Homo sapiens: one gene and its partners. The protein of the gene in region 2 purifies or fractionates together with the protein of the main gene of each other region. This does not show direct contact. Each region holds a gene or a part of one and is shown on either strand. Other genes may lie near its edges. The genes, in order: DCAF10, PAGE1, CBY1, EPDR1, GNB1L, CEP120 and PDCD2L.

The links.
Region 1: the proteins of PAGE1 (region 2) and DCAF10 purify together in Homo sapiens (co-immunoprecipitation; 2 studies listed by BioGRID and IntAct, with this or other methods). This does not show direct contact.
Region 3: the proteins of PAGE1 (region 2) and CBY1 purify together in Homo sapiens (affinity purification with mass spectrometry; one large-scale study listed by BioGRID and IntAct). This does not show direct contact.
Region 4: the proteins of PAGE1 (region 2) and EPDR1 purify together in Homo sapiens (co-immunoprecipitation; one large-scale study listed by IntAct). This does not show direct contact.
Region 5: the proteins of PAGE1 (region 2) and GNB1L purify together in Homo sapiens (affinity purification with mass spectrometry; one large-scale study listed by BioGRID and IntAct). This does not show direct contact.
Region 6: the proteins of PAGE1 (region 2) and CEP120 purify together in Homo sapiens (affinity purification with mass spectrometry; one large-scale study listed by BioGRID and IntAct). This does not show direct contact.
Region 7: the proteins of PAGE1 (region 2) and PDCD2L purify together in Homo sapiens (affinity purification with mass spectrometry; one large-scale study listed by BioGRID and IntAct). This does not show direct contact.

What each region holds. Positions count from the first base shown.
Region 1 is NC_000009.12:37,842,297-37,845,796, reverse strand, and holds part of DCAF10 (DDB1- and CUL4-associated factor 10), read right to left. Parts: intron 1-3,500. UniProt on the Homo sapiens protein: May function as a substrate receptor for CUL4-DDB1 E3 ubiquitin-protein ligase complex.
Region 2 is NC_000023.11:49,689,966-49,692,984, forward strand, and holds part of PAGE1 (P antigen family member 1), read right to left. Parts: intron 1,410-3,019; coding exon 1,284-1,409; intron 1-1,283.
Region 3 is NC_000022.11:38,666,638-38,670,137, reverse strand, and holds part of CBY1 (protein chibby homolog 1), read right to left. Parts: intron 2,122-3,500; 5' UTR 2,084-2,121; coding exon 2,006-2,083; intron 1-2,005. UniProt on the Homo sapiens protein: Inhibits the Wnt/Wingless pathway by binding to CTNNB1/beta-catenin and inhibiting beta-catenin-mediated transcriptional activation through competition with TCF/LEF transcription factors.
Region 4 is NC_000007.14:37,948,140-37,951,639, forward strand, and holds part of EPDR1 (mammalian ependymin-related protein 1 isoform 1 precursor), read left to right. Parts: intron 1-700; coding exon 701-909; intron 910-2,060; coding exon 2,061-2,257; 3' UTR 2,258-3,500. UniProt on the Homo sapiens protein: Binds anionic lipids and gangliosides at acidic pH.
Region 5 is NC_000022.11:19,785,799-19,788,874, forward strand, and holds part of GNB1L (guanine nucleotide-binding protein subunit beta-like protein 1), read right to left. Parts: coding exon 2,911-3,076; 3' UTR 1-2,910. UniProt on the Homo sapiens protein: Acts as a critical regulator of DNA damage response (DDR) signaling via specifically regulating phosphatidylinositol 3-kinase-related protein kinase (PIKK) family proteins.
Region 6 is NC_000005.10:123,385,404-123,388,903, forward strand, and holds part of CEP120 (centrosomal protein of 120 kDa), read right to left. Parts: intron 3,204-3,500; coding exon 3,029-3,203; exon of another isoform or gene 2,901-3,028; intron 1,265-2,900; coding exon 1,115-1,264; intron 1-1,114. UniProt on the Homo sapiens protein: Plays a role in the microtubule-dependent coupling of the nucleus and the centrosome.
Region 7 is NC_000019.10:34,407,399-34,410,898, reverse strand, and holds part of PDCD2L (programmed cell death protein 2-like), read right to left. Parts: intron 1,739-3,500; coding exon 1,389-1,738; intron 1-1,388. UniProt on the Homo sapiens protein: Over-expression suppresses AP1, CREB, NFAT, and NF-kB transcriptional activation, and delays cell cycle progression at S phase.

The DNA of each region.
Region 1 (3,500 bases), on a different chromosome or scaffold from region 2:
CTTGCCAGTCAGAATAGATGCAGATGGCTGTGCTGGAACAGGGTCCTGGAATCGCCATATTGTGTAAGGGGGACTTTTGCTGCTGAATCATGGGAAGGTTTTGTGGGAGGTATCTCTAGAAGAGGGGCCTGGGTAGTCAGAGGGTGTCAGAGGGTAACTCAGGGCAGTGCCTATTTACGAATTGGTATGGAAGAAGTTCAATCTTTTAACAGTACTTCAGCTGAACCAGTACATATTGGCTAAATATTAGTCCTAGTAATAGGTCTATTTCAGGTTTTCTATTTCTTCCTTGGCCAGTTTTGCTAAGGTGTATTTTTTTAGTAAACTGGCTATTTCATCAAAGTTTTCAAGTATATAGGGATAAAGCTCATCTATCATCTTCTTCTATATTGTTGTCTCCTTTTTATTGCTGATATTAGTTATTTATGTCTTTTTTCTCTTGATGAATCTTGCCAGAGAATTGCCTATTCAATTAGCTTTTTTCAAAGAGCAGGCTTTTAAAAATCCTCTATTATATTTTCATTTTTGACATCATCAATTTTATGCTTTTACACTTATCATTTCCATACATCTACTTTCATCGGGTTTATCCTTTTACTTTTTTCCAGTTTTTTGAGTAAGATGCTTAGTTCATCAATTTTCAACCTGTCTTCAGTATGATTTCTTCTTTGATCCATAAATTATTTAAAAGTGAGTTTATAAGTCTCTAAACATGAGAATTTTTAATTAATAACTAAATGATACTAAGAACAGGGAAAATGGTTTGTGTGATAATAGTTCTTTGGTACCAGCTGAAACCTACTTTGTAGTTCAGTACATGCTCAATTTTTGTACTGGTTCTAAGTTTGCTTCAGAGGATGTTTTCACTAGTTGTTGGTAGCAGAAATCTAAATATGTGTAATACATCAAGCTTATTAATAATATTTAAATCTTCCACAGCCTTATCCATTTTTGTTTGTTGTTGTTGTTATTTTTCTTTTTTGAGACAGAATCTCACTCTGTCACCCAGGCTGGCCCACTGCCACCTCTGCCTCCCAGGTTCAAGCGATTCTCCTGCCTCAGTAGCTGGGATTACAGGCGTGTGCCACTAGGCCCTGCTAATTTTTGTGTTTTATTTATTTTTGTTGTTGCTGTTGTTATTGTTTTGAGACAGAGTCTGACTCTGTGGCCCAGGCTGGAGTACAGTGGCACAACCTCGGCTCACGGCAACCTCTACCTCCTGGGTTCAAGTGATTCTCCTGCCTCAGCCTCCCAAGTAGCTGGGATTACAGGTGCCAGCCACCACGCCTGGCTAATTTTTGTATTTTTAGTAGAGATGGGGTTTCTGCGTGCTGGCCAGGCTGGTCTCAAACTCCTGACCTCAGGTGATCCACCCACCTCGGCCTTCCGAAGTGCTGGGATTACAGGTGTGAGCCACCACACGTGGCCTAATTTTTGTATTTTTAGTAGAGATGGAGTTTCACCATGTTGGCCAGGCTGGTCTCCTGACCGCAAGTGATCTGCCCACCTCAGCCTCCCAAAGTGCTGGGATTACAGGCGTGAGCCACCATGCCCGGCCCATTTTTGTCTATCTTATCTAGATAAGTAAATGAGAGAATGCTGTTAATATTTTCCACTGAGATGGAGATTTCTCACTTCTTTCTTGTAATTCTGTCCACTTTTACTTTTTATAGTTTTATGCTATGTTTTTAGGCGCATACAAGCTTTTATATTTTAGTGAAATTAATCTTTTGTTATAGTACCTTTTTATCAGTAATGCTTTTTGTCTTAAACTTTATTTTGTTTGCTATTAATGTAGCCACAACTGTTTTGTCTTTGACGTATAATTGTTTGTTTTTTCTCATCCTTTTACTTTCAACTTTTCTAGGTTTGTATGTTTTAACTGTGTCCCTTACAAAGAAAATACAGTTCTGTTTTATTTTTAATCTAATCTAACACTGTCTATTTTTAACTGGACAGTTTAGCCCATATACGTTTATCACAGTTATTAATATTTGGATTAAAGCTTAGGTTATCTGCCTACTAGTTTTATGCTTTGTGAAATAACAAAAAATATTTTTCCTGAAATTAAGGAAATTTATTTTGTAAGCTAGTTTTCATCATGAACTATACAACTTGGTCTCCTTCCTGTATAATTTTCTCCAACTTTTTAGTTGCAGTATATGACTAGTTTTGTGCTTCCTAATTTACCTGTTCTTTTAAATAATTATCTTTTTTCCTTCCCTTCTCTGCTTCTATGGGATTGATCATGTTTTATTAGTTTTTTACCCTCTACTAATTTGGAAGTTACATTTATATTTCTATTCAAATTTTATTTCTAAATTTTAGTAAACAAATTCATTTAGTAGGTATGCTTGTCTTTGTCTAAAGATAACCAATAGTTTTTGCCTTCCACTCAAAGAGTATGGGTAGCTAGAAATCTCCAAGAATAGCCCCTCTCTTTTTACATATGACCTCTAAAAAGAATATTTCGAAAATGATGGCCACACACAGTGGCTCATGCCTGTAATCCTTGTATTTTGGGAGCTAAGGCAGGAGGATCACTTGAGCCCAGGAGTTCAAGACCAGCCTGGGCAGCATAGCGAGACCCCGTCTCTACAAAAAATAAAAAATTAGGTGGGCATGGTGGCTCATGCCTATAGTCCTAGCTGCTCAGGAGTCTGAGGCAGGAGGATCACTTAAGCCTGGGAGATCCAGTCTGCAGTGAGCTGTGACTGTACCACTGCACTACAGCCTGGGTGACAATGCGAGACCCTGTCTCAAAAACAACAACAAAAACAAATATACACAGAAATGATCATGGTGTGTTTACTATATTATCATTTCACCATAGCTAGCAAAGCAGGCATATTTTAATTGTTTTTCAAACTTCAACTCTTTAAATATCAATTTCTTTATAAGGAGACATTTTGTTGGAATGTTGCACAACAGAGGCATAACTGGCATTTTAGGTGGGACAACTAGTCCACTGTGCACACTGACCTGTGTACTGCAGGAGGTTTAGAAACTCTGGTCCTTGCTGACTACATGCTAGTAGATAGTTCTCTTCCCCCATAGTGACAACCAAAATTGCCCCACGCTTTATTCCTAAACATTCCCTTTGAGATCAGTACCATTCCAAATGAGAACTACTCTTTTAATGCATGAAAACAAAGAACAAAAATTGCAAAATAAATATATGTAGAATTGAGGGAAGAAAAAGTGAGAAACAGTTTAGTTTCACAGGAGAAATAACAAAAATATTTTTCCTTAAATTCAGGAAACTCTTTTTTTATAAGCCAGTTTTCATCATTAACTATACTACTTGGTCTCCTTCCTGTATAATTTTCCCCAAAATTTTTAGTTGCAATATATGACTAGGTACAATTAACAAAATATATCATCACTTTTTGGTTGCTTTTCCTAAAGCCAGTTTCCTTCTTGAGGCTAGGACAGAACACTGAATTTGTTCACCATCTTTAAAAAAAATGTTTTTGTTCATAATCCTAACATGGTCTCCT
Region 2 (3,019 bases):
TGTATATATATGTGTGTATATACACACATATATATGTGTATATATATGTGTGTATATACACACATATATATGTGTATATATGTGTATATATGTGTATATACACACATATATATGTGTATATATGTGTATATATGTGTATATATACACATATATATGTGTATATATACACATATATATGTGTATATATATAATCAATTTAAGCAGTAAAACATGAAATATGAACAAGAAAATAATATTCATGCTCTCAGTGTTATTAAATAAAAGCTTTCACTAGTGTAATAATAAATGTGTTGATAAGAATCCCAAGAACATGATTTCAGGAGTCTGTTGGCAGAAAACAGGAAAACAGGGTTTTCCAAATATTACCCTCTTCCTTTCCGAAGACTGCCCTCAGACAACTTTGTTGCTGCCTTTGCACTTCTTTATTATTCTACTTCTGATTGTCCTTATCATATTAAATGACTCAAGACTGAAACCCTGTCTCTCACAGCACTTACACTCCTGGCACTTAGACTCCTACATGGCATGAGTAGCCACCAATAAACGCTGAGTGAAAAAAGTTCTTTAAAAAATACATGAAAAATCCCCAAATCCTGAACATTCTGCACACCAACTTGTCTATCCTCTTCAAAAATGTCCGTATCCTGAATGACAAAGAAAAATTAAGGAAACATTCCAGATTAAAGGAAACTAGAAACACATGACAAGCACATGTAAGACGTGATCTTGAACTGGACTCTGGATCAGAAAAAGAAATTCTATAAAGGAAATTATCTGGGCCAGGCATGGTGGCTCACACCTTTAATGCCAACATTTTGGGATGCCAAGGTGGGCAGATCACTTGAGGTCGGGAGTTCAAGACCAGCCTGGCTAATGTGGTGAAATCCCGTCTCTACTAAAATACAAAAAAAAAAAAAAAAGAAACATTTATTTGTCAGGCACTGTGGCAGGGCTGTAACCTCAGGACTTTGGGAGGCTAAGCTGGGTGGATCATCTGAGGTCAGGAGTTCGACACCTGCCTGTGCAACATGACAAAACCCCGTCTCTACTAAAATTACAAAAATTAGGTGCCTGTGGTGGCATACGCCTGTAATCCTAGCTGCTCGGGAGGCTGAGGCAGGAGAATCACTTAAACCCAGCAGGTGGATGTTGCAGTGAGCCAAGATTGAGCCACTGCACTCCAGCCTGGGTGACAGAGTGAGACTCCATCTCAGAAAAAAAAGAAAATTATAATACTGTGGAAACAGACACCCTACAATTTGCATGCTTAATGGACTACCTACCTTCTGCGGGCAGTTTCATCTGCTCTTCATTTCGCAGGCACACCCTCTTGGTATCAGGACCATCTCCAAGCTCACACCCAGTCTTTGGCTGAACCAGTTCCTGGCTATCAGCTTCAGGCTCCTGCCCTTAAAGATAAAACAAAATTATCATTTTAAGCAGCAACACATGAAATATGAATAAGAAAATAATATTCATGCTCTTGGTCTTATTAAATAAAAGCTTTAGGTACTGTAATAATAAATGTGTTGATAAGAATCCCAAGAACATTATTTCAGGAGTCTGTTGGCAGAAGACAGGAAAACAGGGTTTTCCAAATATTACCCTCTTCCTTTCTGAAGACTGCCCTCAGACAACTTTGTTGCCTCCTTTGCACTTATCTGTTATTGTATTTCTGATTGTCCTTATTATATTAAATGACTCAAGGCTGACATCCTGTCTCTCATTAGCATTTAGACTCCTAGCACCTAGCAAGTTATATGGCATGAGTAGGCACCAATAAATGGTGAGTGAAAAAACAGTCTTTAGAAACTACACAAAAAAGCCCAAAGTGCTAAACGTTCCGCAAACCAACTGGTCTATCCTCTTGAAAAATGTCAGTATCAGCCAGCCGGGCGTGGTGGCTCACACCTGGAATCCCAGCACTTTGGGAGACCGAGGTGGGCGGATCATCTGAGGTCAGGAGTTAGAGACCAGCCTGGCCAACATGGTGAAACCCAGGCTCTGCTAAAAATACAAAAGAAAAAATAAATTAGGCAGGTGCGGTGGCCATTGCCTGTAGTCCCAACTACTCAGGAGGCTGAGGCATGAGAATCTCTTGAGCCTGGGAGGCAGAGTTTAGAGAGAGCCGAGATCTTGCCACTGCACTCCAACCTGGGCAACAGAGTGAGACTCCGTCTGAAAAAAAAAAATAAGAAAGAAAAAAGAAAATTATCTGGATAACTGGCAAAATCTGAGTATACTCTGTGTATTAAATGACTGCAGGTTCTCATTGTTAAATGTCCTGAGTTTGATCATTGTGCAGTGATTATCCAAGGAATGACTTTTTCTTTGTTCTGAGGATATATAAACACTTTCAAGTACTTAGGGTAAAGGGCCATAATAGCTGAAACCTTATCTGAACAATGCAGCATTAATAAGAGTAAACATAATATCCGTAAGTGTGTGTGTGAGTGTGTGGGCAGCAGGGTAAGAGAGGGAGGGAAGAGACATGAAAACAATGGAGCAGAAGCTATTAACAATTGGTGAATCTAGGTGAAAAGTATATGAGTTCATTGTACTATTCTTGCAAATTTTCTACAAATGTTATGTCTTGAAAATATATAAAGTAAAAACTTGTAAGAATATATGACAACTACACTGAACTTTAGGAAGACAGAAGTTTTTTTTTAATTGTGTTAAAAAATACACATAACATAAAATTTACCATGGTAACTAATTTTAAGTGTTATAGTTCAGTAAGGAGTTATGGTTGCAACATTACCAGCAGCTAAGAACAAACTTTACATGTTTGTTTTCCTATATAACGAAACATTTATTATTTATTTATTTATTTATTTGCGATGAGGTCTCCCTATGTTTCCCAGGCTGGTCTTGAACCCTAGGCTCAAGCGATCCTCTCACCTCAGCCTCCCAAGTAGCTGGGACTATGATTTCACAGCACTAAGCCCAGTTTGAGACCTTTCTACTAAATGACAATCTAAGGATAAACCACAGGACATGTATAATACTTATATTC
Region 3 (3,500 bases), on a different chromosome or scaffold from region 2:
CTGCCTCAGCTTCCCGAGTAGCTGGGACTACAGGCGCACGCCACCACACCTGGCTAATTTTTGTATTTTTTAGTAGAGACAGGGTTTCACCATATTGGCCAGGCTGGTCTCGAACTCCTGACCTTGTGATCCGCCCACCTCAGCCTCCCAAAGTGCTGGGATTATAGACGTGAGCCACCGTGCCCGGCCTAATTTTTGTATTTTTTAAAGTAGAGTCAGAGTTTCGCCACATTGGCCAGGCTGGTCTCAAACTCCTGACCTCAAGTGATGCGCCCACCTCAGCCTCCTAAAGTGCTGGGATTACAGGCATGAGCCACTGCGCCTGGCCTAGATATTCATTTCTACAACTCACTGAGCACCCACCCCGATTCGGGACTCGGTACTGGGTATCCAGGGATGCGTATGACCAGCTCTGCCCTCAATAGCGGCTCAACACAGGGAGACCTTCAGGTAAGTGCTCAAATGTCCCTTTCTCAGTTAGGCCTTCCTGACCACCCTGTTGAAAATGAAAGCTCAGTCCCCAGTGCTCAGCCACACCCCATCCCAGGCCTATGCTTTGTTTTGCTGTCTGGCACATATCACCATCTGATATAAATTTGCTTATTTTCTGTAGCCTTCCGTTAAAGTATCTGCCCCATGAAAGCAGGGATTTGATGTTTTTCTCTCCCCTCCTTCATCCACTTCTGCATGCCCAGTGCTTAGGAGAGTGCCTGGCACATAGAAAGGTATCAATCAATAGCTCTTTAATTAATCTATTCTAGATTCTAGAATTAAACATTCTAGGCAGAAGGAGTAGCGTGCGCAGAGGAGGTTCACACGGGGCTTGGGCGGCTGCAGCACAGGGTGTGCAGAGGGCAAGGGCAGGAAGGAGAGCTGGAGTGAGGCCACCAAGGGTCATTTGTGCTGCTCCCAAGATCTGGGTGGTTATCCTGTAATAACGGGGAACTAATAAAATCCACCAGTGACCATATGGAGCGCTGTGGAGGCCTTACAAGTACCAAGGCTTACAAGTACCTGTCAGCATGTGGAAAACAATGTAGGGGAGGACCGACTTCAAGTCACGGTCAGAGACAGACGTCATGTAAGCACACTGCTGCTCTTACGCTGTGTGGGATTAGGACAGAGGATGTCCTAGAGGGACCGCCAGGTGTATCTGCATCTCTCACACATGGCAGAGAGGAAAGGGAGCCTCAGGCCTAGGGGCACCAGAAACTGAGATCCTAAGCCTCTGCCTGGCCTGCTCCACAGAATGCCCAGCTCTGGCCACAGTGGGGCTGCCCCCACCATGATTTTCACTGGGAACAGGAGACAACAGACTCTTAAGACCTGAAACCTGTAGTGAATGCTCAGCCCCCACAGCCTTGTTGTTCAACCCCACTCGCCTTCTGTGAAGACATGGCCAGTCTGCATAGCTAGCTCTGTAGGAAAAGGTCACAGAATAAAGTAGAAGTCAAATTGGATGATACTGGCTGGGCACAGTGGCTCACACCTGTAATCCTAGCACTTGGGGAGGCCAAGGCGGGTGGATCACCTGAGATCAGCAGTTCGAGACCAGCCTGGCCAACATGGTGAAACCCTGTCTCTACTAAAAGTACAAAAATTAGCCGGGCATGGTGGCGGGCAGTTGTAATCCCAGCTACTCAGGAGGCTGAGGAAGGAGAATCGCTTGAACCCGGGAGGTGGAGGTTGCAGTGAGTCAAGATCGCGCCACTGCACCCTAGCCTGTGGGACGGGAGTGAGACTCCATCTCAAAAAAGAAAAAAAAAATTTGGATATTTGGGGTCAAATATCATAATGAGATTGTCTTCTTAGGTTCTTGGATAAACAAGCTCTGACGATCATTCCCAAACAAGAGTTCAAAAATGTTTTCCGCAATAGCAATGATATGGACGGAAAGGATGCCCTCCTGCACTGATGCCTCTGGAGGACCACACTTTCCATTCAGAGACACGCTCAGCACTCAACTCATGCTGCACACCCGGCCGACCCCAGTACCGACACTCACAGAATGCAGGTTGGAGAGAGATGCCGACTTCCGAGGAGGTGTCTTCTTCGGACTGAACGTATTCCCAAAGAAAGGCATCTTTGGCCTGATGAAAGCAAAGCCAGTGCTCCCTTCTCCTAGGGTCAGAAAAAGTCAGGGGTACAAGCAGCTGGATCACTGACCTTATGCCATTGTCTTCAAATCTTGAAGACATACATTTTATCATGTGGCTACTAACGATCCTGGTGCTATGGTTTGAATGTCCCCACCAAAACTCATGTTGAAATTGAATTGCCATTGTTTAACAGTATAAGGGGTGACTGGGCCATGTGAGCTCTGCTCTCATGAATGGATTAATGCCATTGTCATGGAGTAGGTTAGTTTTCTCTGGCGTGGGCTCCTGGCAAAAGGATGAGTTCTGCTGCCATGCTGTCTGTCTCATGCACTTGCTCACCATGTGAGCCTTCTGCCTCACACAGGATGACCCTCACCAGATACTTGCACCATGCTCTTGGACTTCCCAGTCTCCAGAACTGTGAGCCAAATAAACTTCTTTTCTTTATAAATTACCCAGTCTGTGGTAATCTGTAACAGCAGCACAAAATGGATTAAGACGCCTGGTAATAGCTCCCATGTGCTGAACGCTCCCTTTGTGCTACGCGGTATGCTAAGATTTTTTGGGTGGCACACAGTGGCGCATGCCTGTAGTCCCAATTACTTGGGAAGCTGAGGCTGGGGGGTCGCTGGAGCCCAGGGAGGTTGAGGCTGCAGTGAGCTGTGGTCCACTGCTGCTCTCCAGTCTAGGCTACAGAATGAGAGACCATGTCTCAAAAAAAAAAAGTTAGCCTGGCATGGTGGCACACAACTACAGTCTCAGTGACTCAGGAGGCTGAGGTAGGCAGATCACTTGAGCCCAGGAGTTTAAGACCAGCCTGGCCAACATGGCAAAACTCTGTCTCTACAAAAAATACAAAAATTAGCCAGGTATGGTGGTGCGTGCCTGTAGTCTCAGCTATTCAGTAGGCTTAGGTGGGAGGATCACTTGAACCTATGAGTCTGAGCCTCCAGTGAGCTATGATCATGCCACTGCACTCCAGCCTGAGTCAAAGAGCATTACCCTGTCTCTAAAAAAAAAAAAATAAAGAAAGAAATGGCTGGGCACGGTGGCTCATATCTGTAATCCCAGCACTTTGGGAGGCCGAGGCGGGCAAATCAAGAGGTCAGGAGTTTGAGACCAGCCTGGCCAACGTGGTGAAACCCTGTCTCTACTAAAAATACAAAAAATTAGCTGGGCATAGTGGCGGGTGCCTGTAATCCCAGCTAGTTGGGAGGCTGAGGCAGGAAAATTGCTTGAACCCAGGAGGCAGAGGTTGCAGTGAGCCGAGATTGCGCCACTGCACTCCAGCCTGGGTGACAGAGCAAGACTCTGTCTCAAAAATAAATTAAAAAAATAAATAAATAAATGAGTAAAGCTATGCTTATATTTCCTTTCCAGATTGATAACAGTGCTCCTCAC
Region 4 (3,500 bases), on a different chromosome or scaffold from region 2:
AATTCCTTGACTGAGTGCTGTGAGAGAAAATGCACCACACAAGAGTCAAGTCCTCCTGTGTCTCTGTGGGTAAACAAAAGTTCACAAACCAGCTCTTCAGCCGGAGCCATATCTTCCCCATGTTTGTATGCTAAGCACAGGGTCTGGCATATACTAGGTCCTTGGTCAAAATTTGCCCAGTGAATATACACTTTTGACCTCAATTTTTTTTTTTTTTTTTTGATGGTGGACGGGATCTCACCCAGGCTGTATGTAGTGCGGTGGCATGATCATGGCTCACTGAAGCTTTGAACTCCCAGGCTCAAGTGATCCTCTTACTTCAACCTCCCAAGTAGCTGGGACTACAGCTGTGCACTGCCATGTCTGGCTAATTTTTAAAATTTTTTTTCTAGAGACAGGGGTCTCACTATGTTGCCCAGGCCGGTCTCAAACTCCTGGGCTCAAAACGTACTCCATCCTCGGCCTCCCAAAGTGCTGGGATTACAGGGATGAGCCATCATGCTCGGTCTGACCTGTGAATTCTAATTATTTCATATGCAGGTTGTTTCATGTGCCTAGTGTTTATAAACGTTAAGTGATTGCCTAGCTAGTAATTTCTTTCTATTTTAAAAGTAATATCTATCAAAGGTGTTTGTGCTGTTAAAAGGCACGAGGATGGTAACATGAAGTCCCAAACTACTTCTTTCCATCTGTGTTTCAGATTATTTGAATATATTTTGCTGTATAAGGATGGAGTGATGTTTCAGATTGACCAAGCCACCAAGCAGTGCTCAAAGATGACCCTGACACAGCCCTGGGATCCTCTTGACATTCCTCAAAACTCCACCTTTGAAGACCAGTACTCCATCGGGGGGCCTCAGGAGCAGATCACCGTCCAGGAGTGGTCGGACAGAAAGTCAGCTAGATCCTGTAAGGGTTCAAAGAATCTAAGCATTGTATTCAGCATGCATGATGGGGAAAAAGGTTTAAGTCCTTTAAGGAAGGTAGTTTTTAGGGAAACATCCGCTTAATCAAAAATTTTTTAAAGCCTCCACTTAGGTCTGCAGGTTACTTTGCTCACTATGTGGCAACGGGATCTAAGCTTCATATTTGAAACACCTCAGCCTTCTAGTGCCACCTGCACCTCTCTGCCACTTTGGCTCCTGTGAACTTAGCCTTGATTTTGACATTTTATGGTCGTCCCGAGGTCTGTGACATGGAAGGCATCTGTCTAAGGCACACATTTGAATTGGGTGCCTCCTTTTCTTTCCCCCACTTCCTAAAGTTGCAGGGGTCAAATCTACTCCCATCATGCTGAGTGTGCAAACCAGCCTACTTTTATGTGAAGCCATTCTCTGCCCTGCTGCTGATATACGCCTATCCCAAGACAGTTTTTACCACACAGGCATTCATGCTGTGGAACACAGTATGGTGATTTCTCAAAAAATTAAAGATAAGACTGCCATATGACCCAGCAACTCCACTTCTGTATATATATATATGCCCCAAAGAATTGAACGCAGAGACTCAAACAGATATTTGTACACCCATGTCCACAGCAGCATTATTCACAATTGCCAAAAGGTGGAAACCCAAATGTTCATCAACAGATAAATGGATAAACAAAATCTGGTATAGTCATACAACAGAATATTATTCAGCCTTAAAAAGGAAGGAAACACCAGCACATGCTACAGCCTGAGTAAACCTTGAGGACATAATGTTAAGAGAAACAATGCAGGCAGAAAATGACAAATACAGTACAATCCCACTTACATGAGGTATGTAGAGTCGTCAAATTCATAGAGACAGAAAATCGAATGATGAGTTCCAGGAGCTGGGAGAGGAGGAATGGGAAGTTCGTGTTTAATGGAGACAGAGTTTCAGTTTGGGAAGATGAAAAAAGTTCTGGAGATGGATGGTGCTGATGGTCAACAAATGTGAATGTACTCAAGGCCACCAAACACTTAAAAATGGTAAAATGGTAAATTTTATGTTATGTACATTTTACCACCATAAGAAAAAATATGAACTTCTTGCCTGTCTTCTTTATTTAAAAGTCAACTTTTTTCCTCTTATAGATGAAACCTGGATTGGCATCTATACAGTCAAGGATTGCTATCCTGTCCAGGAAACCTTTACCATAAACTACAGTGTGATATTGTCTACGCGGTTTTTTGACATCCAGCTGGGTATTAAAGACCCCTCGGTGTTTACCCCTCCAAGCACGTGCCAGATGGCCCAACTGGAGAAGATGAGCGAAGACTGCTCCTGGTGAGCCTGTGCATAGGGAAGCGGCAGCATCGGATGTCAGCCCCCTGCGGCCCCAGCTGGAGATGGATATGAGACTAGTCAAGATGTGAATGCTAATTGGAGAGAAATATAATTTTAGGAAGATGCACATTGATGTGGGGTTTTGATGTGTCTGATTTTGACTACTCAAGCTCTGTTTACAGAAGAAAATTGAATGGCGAGGGTGTGGCCATATGAACTGACTAGATGGCTAATATGGACACTTTGGGTATTTCTAATGCCTGTTCAGGGCTGGTTTTCTGCATGCACGGGTATACACATAATGCAGTGCCATGCACATAGGGAAGGGTCAGTAAGAGAAGTTTGCCTTGGCAGCAAGTATTTATTGTTGACATTATTCAGAATTAGTGATAATAAAAAGCAGAGTGATTTTGGTCAATTTTATTATTAATTCTTAAATTCCCTGCAGAGAATGCCCCCTTTATTGCTGCACCAGGGTTGGCATTGCTCCCACTGAGCCCTACTCCACCCTGTCCCTGCACTCCCTTGGTTGCCAAAAAAATGATAACTTAAATCCCTTCCAGACTTAAGAATTTTATGGCATGGCCCAATTGATATAAACATTTAGAAGGAAATGAAAAGCTAAAATAGGAAGTAATTATTCCTCTAAAGAAACATTTTGAGCAAGGCAGTTTAGAGAATCCTAATGTCTACACTGGCATAGCACGAGCCATGTAAGCTTCTTTTTTTTCTATGCAAGAGTATTGATGTATGTGCTGAATCTTCACAGACTTGTCAATACACAGGCAGTATTCTAAAATAGCACTGAACAGGGAGTCAGGAGACTATTGTCTCCTAAACCCAGGACTAGAGTTCCCTCGTACTGTCACTCCTTTGGTCATTAAATGCACTGGGCTTGCCCGCACTTTGGCCTTCCTAGAACACTGCTTCATAACCTCTCTGTCTGACTTCTGCATCTCCTTCCAGGTCAGCTCATTCACAAGAGTTGCTCCCAAGCCTGGATGAGTTGCACCTTGCATCTTGAGCATGCATTTCTCACAATAATTATTAAGCTGTGTGATAATTTCTGCTTTCAGGACACTCATCCATTATCTTGGCTGTGAGCTCCTTGGGTACGGGTACCTTGTATGTTTACTTTTATATCCCTAGCACAAAGCAAGTGCCTGGCACATAGTCAGTGCCCTAAGTATTCGTAGAGTGAAGAATGCCAGCCTCTCTTGTCCCTGGTTTCCTTATGTGTTGAATGT
Region 5 (3,076 bases), on a different chromosome or scaffold from region 2:
TGCATCTTTTCCAAGCTGGATGTCTGGAGCTGAGACCGTTTCTTCTTCTGTTGTGGGGGTTTCAAGGCTGGTCAGACGCATGGTGATTCATCACGACCCAGGTTCTGTTGACACAAAGGCCGACCTGTCCAGAGCCACATGGCTCTGCTGTGGACACCACGGAGCAGCTCAAGAGAGGAACAGGACCAGGAGGGCTGCACTGCTCTTGGCCGGCTTGGACCCCAGCACCGGTTCTGCTGCTCTCCCAGGCAGCTCAGCCAGGTGAATGAAAGTCCTGGGCCTGCCCTCCACAGGACGTCTATAAGGCCTCAGAAGCTGGATCTGCCTGGCAAGGGGGGCCCTATCTGCCTAGCCACCCAGATGCGGGCACGTGGCCCCGTTGTGCACTGGAGGGGTGAGGGCTGTGTTAGGCATGCAGGACTCACGCTGTCCCGACTCCATCCCTGCACACTGAGATTCAGAACAAGATGTGCCTGGACACTGCTCAACGCCACATGGCCTGGGGCAGGGAGCTCAAGGCCAGGCTAGGGGGCAGCCGCCTGCCATCCACCCTGCTTGTGCCTTTGACTGAAAGCACGAGGGCCAGGGGCCAACTCAGGGTCTGTACACCCTGCCCACAGCTCTTCATGGCCTCTATGTAAGACATCAGCAGGCAGTGCCACTCGCCAACCTCATGCTGGCATGCACACCTGGGCCCTCATGTGGGATACCCACCTCGTGGCTGTGGGACGTAGGGAGTTTTGTAACTACAGTGATGATGCCAAAGATGACAGGGACATAAACAGGGGAAGGGGTAGAGGCCCAGAACCCTCAGGGTGGGAGCTGAGGCGGGGCAGATGTGCCTTTGGCAAGGCTGTCAAGGGCATGCAGGGAAACTGCAAAGCCAATTCCCACTCCACCTACCCTGCCGCTGTCATGGGGATGTCAGAACCTGACACCTTCCCTCACTGTGACAGCCTGTGATGAGCACCCAGGGCACAGCTCCCTCAGCACCTGCAGTCACTGCAGCCTAAACCCAGGACCCTTCCCCTCCCTGACACCTCAGTGATATGAAAATACCTCCCGGAGTGCCCTACGCATCCTGGCGGCTATAGGACACTCGAGGAAAAGCAGCAGGGCCCCCCTCTCCAAAGGTCCTGGGCACCTGGTGGCCACCCTTGTCCAACGGAGCCAGGCCAGTACCCGAGCCAGGTGGTCTCCAAGCTTGGGCCAGGGGCCGCTTTCCCGGCCAGCACTGACATTCCCGTTTGATGGAACGGTCCCCATGGTACCTCTGACCAACAGAGAAGTGTGGTCACAGGACTCCTCAAGGACTCCGGGCCCCCCAGCAACCATGTTCCTCACAGTGGGGTTGGGGAGGCACGGCCTTGGGACCCCCTGCAGTGGGTGCACAGGTCTCACTGACAAATCCAACACCCCCATCCCCAGGCCTTGGAAGCCCTCCTCGGCTGTACCCCACGGCGGCTGGCCATGTCCACTTCACTCAGTGCAGCCACCCTCAGGCTGTAATCCAGCCCCCACCCCCAGCCCGGCACTGGAGCCTTCCTGGCCCCAAGCTGCAGCGCCCAGTCCAGCCCTCCGTTTGGCAGGTCTGTTCCGGGAACTCCCCTGATCCACCCCTGCTCCGGCCACCTGGATCCCACACCCTTCCGATCCGTCCCACACATGTTCAGATTTCTGCCTGGAAACCTGGAAATGCCATGTGGTCCTGCAGGAGGCTGGTGCCACTCTCAGGGTCACCCTCTGTATCTCATCCTGGGGGTCTGCTGGACTCGAGTCTAGTTCTAGGACTAGAAGCCCAGGTGGGGGTCCCAAGGAGCATCGGCAGGGCCTTGCAGGGCAACTGCCTCAAGGGAGGCCACCCCGGGCCTTCAGCTAGAGGGGCTCTTCCGGCAATCCGGGCAGACACAGGCGTGTGTGGTCCCAGCTTCTCTGGATCTGCCCATGGGCCCCACTCCAATATTCAGGGTCATGGTTCTTTCCCAATCAACACCCGCTTTTAGGAGGAGACGACCGGCCAGGCTGGGCCCGGCTGCATGCAGTGTGAGGCTCTGGCTGCTAAGTCCTGCTCTTGCTGTGTTGTGCCCTGGGGGCCACCCTGTGTGCAGCCGCAGCTGTGACTGTGGCCTTGGCCACTGTGAGGCGGTGCTTGTCACACTCCCTTGCTGCTCTCGTGCCTTCTGCCCAGCACTCACCTGGAGGTGCACCCTGTGCGCCTTCCCCACTGCACCCTCTGCGGGCAGGCGTGCCCTCCCGGATCCCACATCTGGCCTGGCCCTGTGCGCTGCAAGCCCCCCTTGCCGTCCCTCACAGGCACCTTTCTCTGCTTCACTCTTTAGGGAGTTCAGTTACTTCCTGATCCTGATCCTGGCCTCAACCTGTGTGTTGGGAGCTCCTGGCCTCCTCGGGGTGAGGGGTCATGTGGACATCGACGCAGCTATGGTTGGGGCCTATCATCTCCTGAGGCCTGGCCCAGGAAACCCACACTCGGGGTGGCCCATTCAACAGCAGGTGTGAGGGTGGGGCTGAGCATCCTGCCTGGTGGGGGTCTGAGGGCACTGATGCTAAGTGGGGGACCAGGGCCTCCTCAGGGAGCTCCCACCTCAAGCCTGCAACTTGGCAATGGAAATTTATTATAAAATACCCTCAGCTGGCAACACAGCAGGCCCAAGCCAACGTCTCCTGCAGGCCTCGGACGGCCAGGGCTCTGGCTGGCCCCCAGAGTCACCGTCCTGTGATGAGGCACTCCACAAAAGGAAATACCAACCTCATGAAGACAGCGGGGACTCCATGGTCCTTGGGCCATGACTTGCTGGTCCTCAGAGGCCCTTGAGGTTTCAGGCCAAGGCTGGGGCCTGATGCCCACCTCCCTGCCCGCCCTCCTCGTCTCCCGGGAAGGGAGTGGGTGAGTCATGCGCGTGGGTAGAGTGACCAGAGGCTGATCCGCTGATCCTTGGAGCCCGCGGCCAGCAAGCCATCGGCGGTGAAGGCCACGCACTGGACAGCGGCGCTGTGGAAGGCCAGCACGGCCAGTGGCTGCATCGTCCGCCAGTGGAACACGCGGATGCGGTGGTCC
Region 6 (3,500 bases), on a different chromosome or scaffold from region 2:
TACCTTTGTCCAACTGCCTACAGTATTCAGTACAGTCACATGCTGTGCAGGTTCGCAGTCTAGAAGCAATAGGCTATTCCACCCAGCTTAGGTGCACAGTAGGCTATACCATCTAAGTTTGTTTAAGTACATTCTACAATGTTCACACAACAATAGAATTATCTAATAATGCACTTCTCATAATGTATCCCTATCTTTAATTCACGACTATACCTGTTTTTTTTTTTTTTTGAGACAGGGTCTTGGTCTGCCACTCAGGCTGCTGTGCAATGGCATAATCACAACTCACTACAGCCTCAACCTCCTGGGCTCAAGTGATCCTCCCGTTTTAGCCCCCTAAGTAGCTGGGACTGCAGGTGCTGGCTAATTTTTGTATTTTTTGTAGAGACAGGGTTTCACCATTTTGCTCAGGCTAGTCTAAAACTCCTGGGCTCAAAGCAATCTGCTCAAGTTGGCCTCCCAAAGTGCTGGGATTACAGGTGTAAGTCACCATGCCAGGCCTACTATTATATTTTTTGTACCACTTTCTATGCAATAAAAACCTTCAAATGCTGTAATTCCCACAAATGGTTAGATTTAAGTTACCCTTCATTCTTTTTAAAATAATGTATAAATTTGAATTGTGATACTCTGAGAAAGTAAAAGGTGTTTCGCAGATCTCAGATTTTTTCATGAATCCATTTCAGATAGTCAGATTAACATCTCTAGTTATAGGTTTAAAAAAACAGAAAAAGCAAATTTTTTCATTCAGTGAATCAACAATAAAAAGTAAATATTTAGTTCTTAGCTTTTTATCTTCCCACATTATATCAGGAAAAGGCAAGACCACTTTTCAAAGGCCCCTCATTACATATAGTTTGTTTTAACAAAGTTAAAATATCTAAATTCAGGTAAATAAGATAGGAAAATCAAAAAAGAGCCTTTATAATAAACCATGCAAAACCCTGTAGCAGATGCACAAATGTCATACACATAATTAGTAAATTTGTTTCTTGATCCTCAAATGCATAAACTGCTATGGATTTAAACCTATAAGAATTCCTTTTTAATAAAATACAAATTTTCAAGAATTGACTTAAATTAATTAATATCATACATACACTGTATGCATTACCTTAAGAAGGTGTCTTGCAGCTGATGAGGCATAGTTGCAAAATCAAATGCACAGTAAGACTGGGGAAGAAAAACTTCCATGTTTTTCCGAACTTCTACAGGAGGATTAGTCATAATAGGAGCTGCACTTCCAAAGAATGGATATGAGTACCTAGAATTTAAAAAAAAAAAAAAAAAAAAAAGCCTTAATGATATGGTTTACAGATGACATTCAGTCTGTTTTTTAGAAAAAAGTATAATATGAATATTATGAGCAAATACAACTTTTTAATAGAAACATGGTAGACATAGCAATCTGTCATCTGTGTAAGAAGTTCCTTGACGGCACATGTCCTACCTTTTTTATCTCTGCACTCCCAGGGACACAGGCAGTTTCTGCCATATATAAATATTCAAGAAATGCTTCCTAAATTTATTTGTAAACCTGGTTTATTTTATACAATAGTATCCTGATTTTTTATGGGATAAAAAGCCCTTAGTCAACTCCAAAAGGATGCATTCATGGTAATCTGGTAATTATGGTAATCTTGCAAGGATGCAAACAATTCGAATGTATTATGGATGAATCAAGAGAGTGACATAACAACACTGTTTCTCCCTTTCATCACAAAGCCATGCTAGATTAAATGGAAGAATGCCTGACTACTGCTGAACTTAATTTGTATTTAAAGCCAAATATAAAGATATTATAATGTTCATTTAAATTTAATCCTGTATCTTGTTATTCATATATGAGAACTAAAATTTAAACACTATTAGTAAAAACTGCTTTCCAACAAGAAGAATTCTATGTAGTCACCCAATTCCTATATAATTATATATCCATTTAAATCATGTCATTTCCGAGGAAAGTTAAATGCCCTAGAGTTTCAGCTCCCTATGCTTACCACCACACTACAGGATTTAGTGATTAAAAGAAAAATAAATAAAGGAAGTCATGCAGATAAGAAACTTTTCAAATACCAGTGTTACCTAACCAATTCCATGACACAGCTGCAAACTACAATTTCATACCAATACAGAGCATGGTATGAAAATTTATCAACAGAAAAAGTTAAGTGGCCAGCATTTTTAAAGTGCCTTAAAATGATTCAAAGACCGAACTATTAGTCCGTATCAAATGAATTCTATGAAGAGTGTTAAGTGGACTGTAACAATTTATTTCCTCAACTTTTGCAAATGCTAATGCTTGTTCCCAAAAAATTTATGAGGAGATGCTAACTACCCCAAACTAAATACATTATTGTATTATATTTAATTTATATCTCGGGCACAAAAGACTATAAAAATGTAACATCATTAAAAACAAATTATTGTGTAAAACTACTTAACTGACATATATATTATATAAAATTCTTAATATAGAACAATGTAGACACATTCCACTTACAGCTGATTAAGTATGGTGTTTAGATTCATAGCTATGAAATGGAGGTATTAGGAATATGAGCTCCCATTATAATACAGTTTTATAGAAAAATCAGATAATACACTACCTTTTTGACCAGTAATACTTTGACTAGTATTATTATTACTTTTTTTTGACCATTATTATTATTTTGACCAGTAATACTTTTTCCAGAAAAAAAGCACTTTTCAAGTTTAAGAGGCACTGTACTTTATATGGCATATTATGTATGTTTATCAAAATACATACATGTATTATATTACTTAGAATAAGTTATTATAAATGCCTACAATTATTATATCAGAATAATAAGACAGTTACCTCTCCTACTACTATGCTACCCTTGTTTGAATTCAAAATCATTAGGATATAGCCTTACCCCCTTTTAGTCCACTGATTTAACAAATGTTATAACTTCTTTGGTGACATTTCTCTCTGCAATTCCCCAAACACAGGAAAGTCCTTTCTCTTCAGAAAATAATACTTTGAAACAAAATCAAATCACACCTTAATATACAGTTGATTGGAAAACCAATCTCCAAGGCATGTATACTCCTTAAGTCTATTGAAAAGCAAAAATGATGTGATGTTGCTGGTACAGCAATCTTCTGTCCTGAAGCTACTTCTGAAGCATTGGATGTAGTCACTAGCTGGGCCAGTGAAGCAGGTACAGAAGAACTGGCTGAAATGAACATAAAATAAAACAAAATAATCACACTTGCTAACAGTTTCTCTTAAATTGTACAGATAGTTTAAGGCTATCATCTCATTTACCTTTAAGCAGGAATTGGGCTATTTTGTCTCATGAACATATGAATTGAGGTATAAGTATCTTAAAAGTAACTCACACAAAAATAACCCAGGTTTTAATTTCCATTCTAGAATTGTGTGAAAAAAGAGCTTACTCTCAATACATATAGAAAACGTACAGAACCAATAGAGAAATATACATGACTGCAGCCTAGAAGGCACTAACTTA
Region 7 (3,500 bases), on a different chromosome or scaffold from region 2:
GCAAGAAAATTGCTTGAACCCAGGAAGGGGAGGTTGCAGTGAGCCGAGATCGCACCACTGCACTCCAGCCTGGCAAGAGAGCCCATATCACACACACACAAAAATAAATAAATAAATAAATAAATAAATAAATAAAAAATAAAAAGTCCTTATAACCATCAATTCTATTAAGGATTATTTTCAAACACCAACATGTCTTCATGCATTCCCCTTCATCATTATTCTGAAAAAGCCTACAAATGAAACAGTTCTGGTAAAGAACCAGGCCATTTCTCCAAATATTCTATTGTAATTTTTTTATTCTAATAGTAAAAAATGCTGGGTGCAGTGGCTAAAACAAATTTTTAGGCCAGGCACAATGGCTCACGCCTGTAATCCCAGCACTTTGGGAGGCTGAGGTGGGTGGATCACCTGAGGTCAGGAGTTCGAGACCAGCCTGACCAACATAGTGAAACCCCATCTCTACTAAAAATACAAAAATTAGCTGGGCATGGTGGCACATGGCTATAATCCCAGCTACTTGGGAGGCTGAGGTAGGAGAACTGCTTAAACCTGAGAGGTGGAGGTTGCAGTGAGCCGAGATCGTGCCATTGCACTCCAGCCTGGGTAACAACAGCGAAACTCAAAAAATTTTAATTGGTCAGACATGGTGGTGTGCACCTGTACTCCCAGCTACTTGGGAAACTAAGATAGATTGCCTGAGCCCAGGAGTTCAAGGCTGCATGAGCTTTGATCACACCAATTCACTCCAGCGTGGGTGACAGAGTGAGACCCTGTCTCTCTCAGTCAATCAATAAGCAAAAATGATCATTCTTACCTCTTTAGAGAGCTTTGGTTTATAAAGCCTTTCAAGATCTACCCTCTCGCTTAACTCTCAAAAAATCATGGGATGAAACAGAGAACAGAGATATCACCATCACTCTCATTTTACAGAATTGAGGATCTGAAAGCATCTCTGAGGTCCTGGGCCAGTTCTGGAGCCACAGCCAAGAGTCAATAAACAAATGGCGTTTTTCTTTTCCTTTTTCCATTTTTTCACCCCAATCTTATTATCCCAGATCAAATGGTAGTTTTCTAACTTGCCTGTCTCTGCTATAAAGACATATTAGAAATATAAAAGAAAATTTAAGAGTCAGTGAACGCGTCTTCTATAAATACTTGCCATCTCTAACTTCTGTTTGTTCATCTTCACTTTCTTAACGGCAATTATAAATAGAGCAGGGTTTTCAAGCTAACTCAAGTTGGCTGATAAGGAAGTGAAGCAAAAAGGTCCTACATACAAGTTCTGCCTGAAAGTTTCCCCAGGTCCTGTGGTGAAACTGAAGGGTAACTCTTGTGGCTGCTTCCCAATCCAGTCACCTCTCAACCTCAGCAGCACACATCCTCACCTTTGGGAAAGCAACTGATCCATGGCAATGCCTTCTCTCTGCTGATAGTCCCTCAGAAGGCTGTGGGCATGATCCAGGTTGACAAAGTCCCTGTAATCATCCTCATCTGCAACACAGATGTAGTAGGGCAGGAAGAGCGGCAGCCCAGGAGGCACAGGATGGGCAGCACCCAGGACAGCATCCTGCAGGCGGAGGTCTTGGAGCCGAGCAGTCCAGTCTACGTCTTTGGCACTGCTGGCATCATTCCCAAAATCCAAGGTAAACTGTGGTGAAGGCCCCTCCTCAGTATCACTTCCCCAGTCATCAGCACCTTCACACCAGTCCTCAGCTGCAAGGCTGTTTCCCTGTTTCTGGAAAAATACTCAGTGAATGAGGTCCGAGCACATTTGGGAGGTTTATTCTAATCCTTCGGCTCCAGCCACCCACCGCCGCGCCTTCCAGAGGGAGCCTTCACACCATCCCCTTCCCCTCTGGTACACTCCAATCAAACTTTCTAGACCCTATGTACTCAAAAGCACGTTGGAGGTGACTTAAAATACTTGTCTTTCCTTTTTGGGGTGAGTGTGACAGATATAGTACAGGGGTTATTCAACCATCCGTTCCAATATCTTTCTGTTGTGCTTCATGTATTGCAGGAACTGAAAAGAAAGAACTACCTTTCCCAGACCCCTTAGCAGCTAGGGTTTCAGATATGATTAGGGGTCTGCTAATCAGGTCTACTAGAGAGAAACATGAACTTGAGACAGAGTGAAGTAGAAAGAAAGACCACATAGCAAAAGGTAGCCATTGTGTAGACACAGACAGAACAAGGCTTTGGAGCCAACGGTTCGGTGGCAAAGACAGCCTCTAGTTCACCAGATCACACCTAAGCTTCCTGACAGCAGGAGAGGTGGCATAGCAGCTCCTTCACGGCCAGTTCTGAGGTGTGATTCTGGAGGGCATTCCTGGAGCCTCCTCCTTCAGCCTATCCACTTACTAAAAACCTCACTCCTGTGTTAAGTCTGTCTCAGCTTAAAAGCCAGGCATGGTGGCACGTGCCCGTAATCCAGCTACTCAGGAGGCTGAGGCAGGAGAATCGCTTGAACCCGGGAGGCGGAGGTTGCAGTGAGCCAAGATCACACCACTGCACTCCAGCCTGGGTGACAGAGCGACACTCGGTCTCAAAAAAAAAAAGAAAAAGCAACAGCACTTTTCTAATTATCTGCACCTGAACCCTGACAAATATAGGCAAACACCACTGTCTTCAACTTTTTATTTAAGTACTGCTAATACTATGCCTAGCAAACATCAAGAACTGGGTGCAGGCCGGGCCCAGTGTCTCACGCCTGTAATCCCAGCATTTTGGGAGGTTGAGGTGGGCGGACTGTTTGAGTCCAGGAGTTCAAGAACAGCCTGGGCAACATGACAAAATCCCATCTATACAAAAAATATGAAAATCAGCTGGGCATGGTGGCACGTGCCTGTAATCCCATCTACTCAGGAGGCTGACGTGGGAGAATGGCTTGGGCCCAAGAGGCAGAGATCATGCCACTGCACTCCAGCCTGGGTGACCAGAATGCAACCCCATCTCAAAAAACAAACAAACAAACAAACAAACTCAGTGTATATATAAAGACACATTTACAGTCAAAGGGAGGCTAAATTGTGTTCTGCAGCTACCAACTTGCCTGCCTTTTCAATAAATTCAGATTTCATCTTATGAAATGTGTTAATACATATATAGCTCTCATAAAGTATATTTACTATAAAGACACGTATACATTATCACATACAACCACATATATGTACACACCCATATATATTCCCAAACAGGAAAATCAGTAAACTGTGTGTCTCAAGACCTTCAGTGTAAGTTTAAAAAAACTACTATATATACAATGGAATATTTTTCACCCTTAAAAAAAAAAAGGAAATTCTGTCATTTGTGACAACATGGATGGAACTGGAGAACATTTTGCTAAGGGAAATAAGCCAGACACAAAGACAAATGCTGCATGTATTCACTTATATGTGGAATCTAAAACAACCTCAAAGAAGTAGAGAGTAGAGTGGTGGTTAAAGAAATCTGGAGTGGCCAGGTGTGGTGGCTCACGCCTGTAATCCCAGCACCTC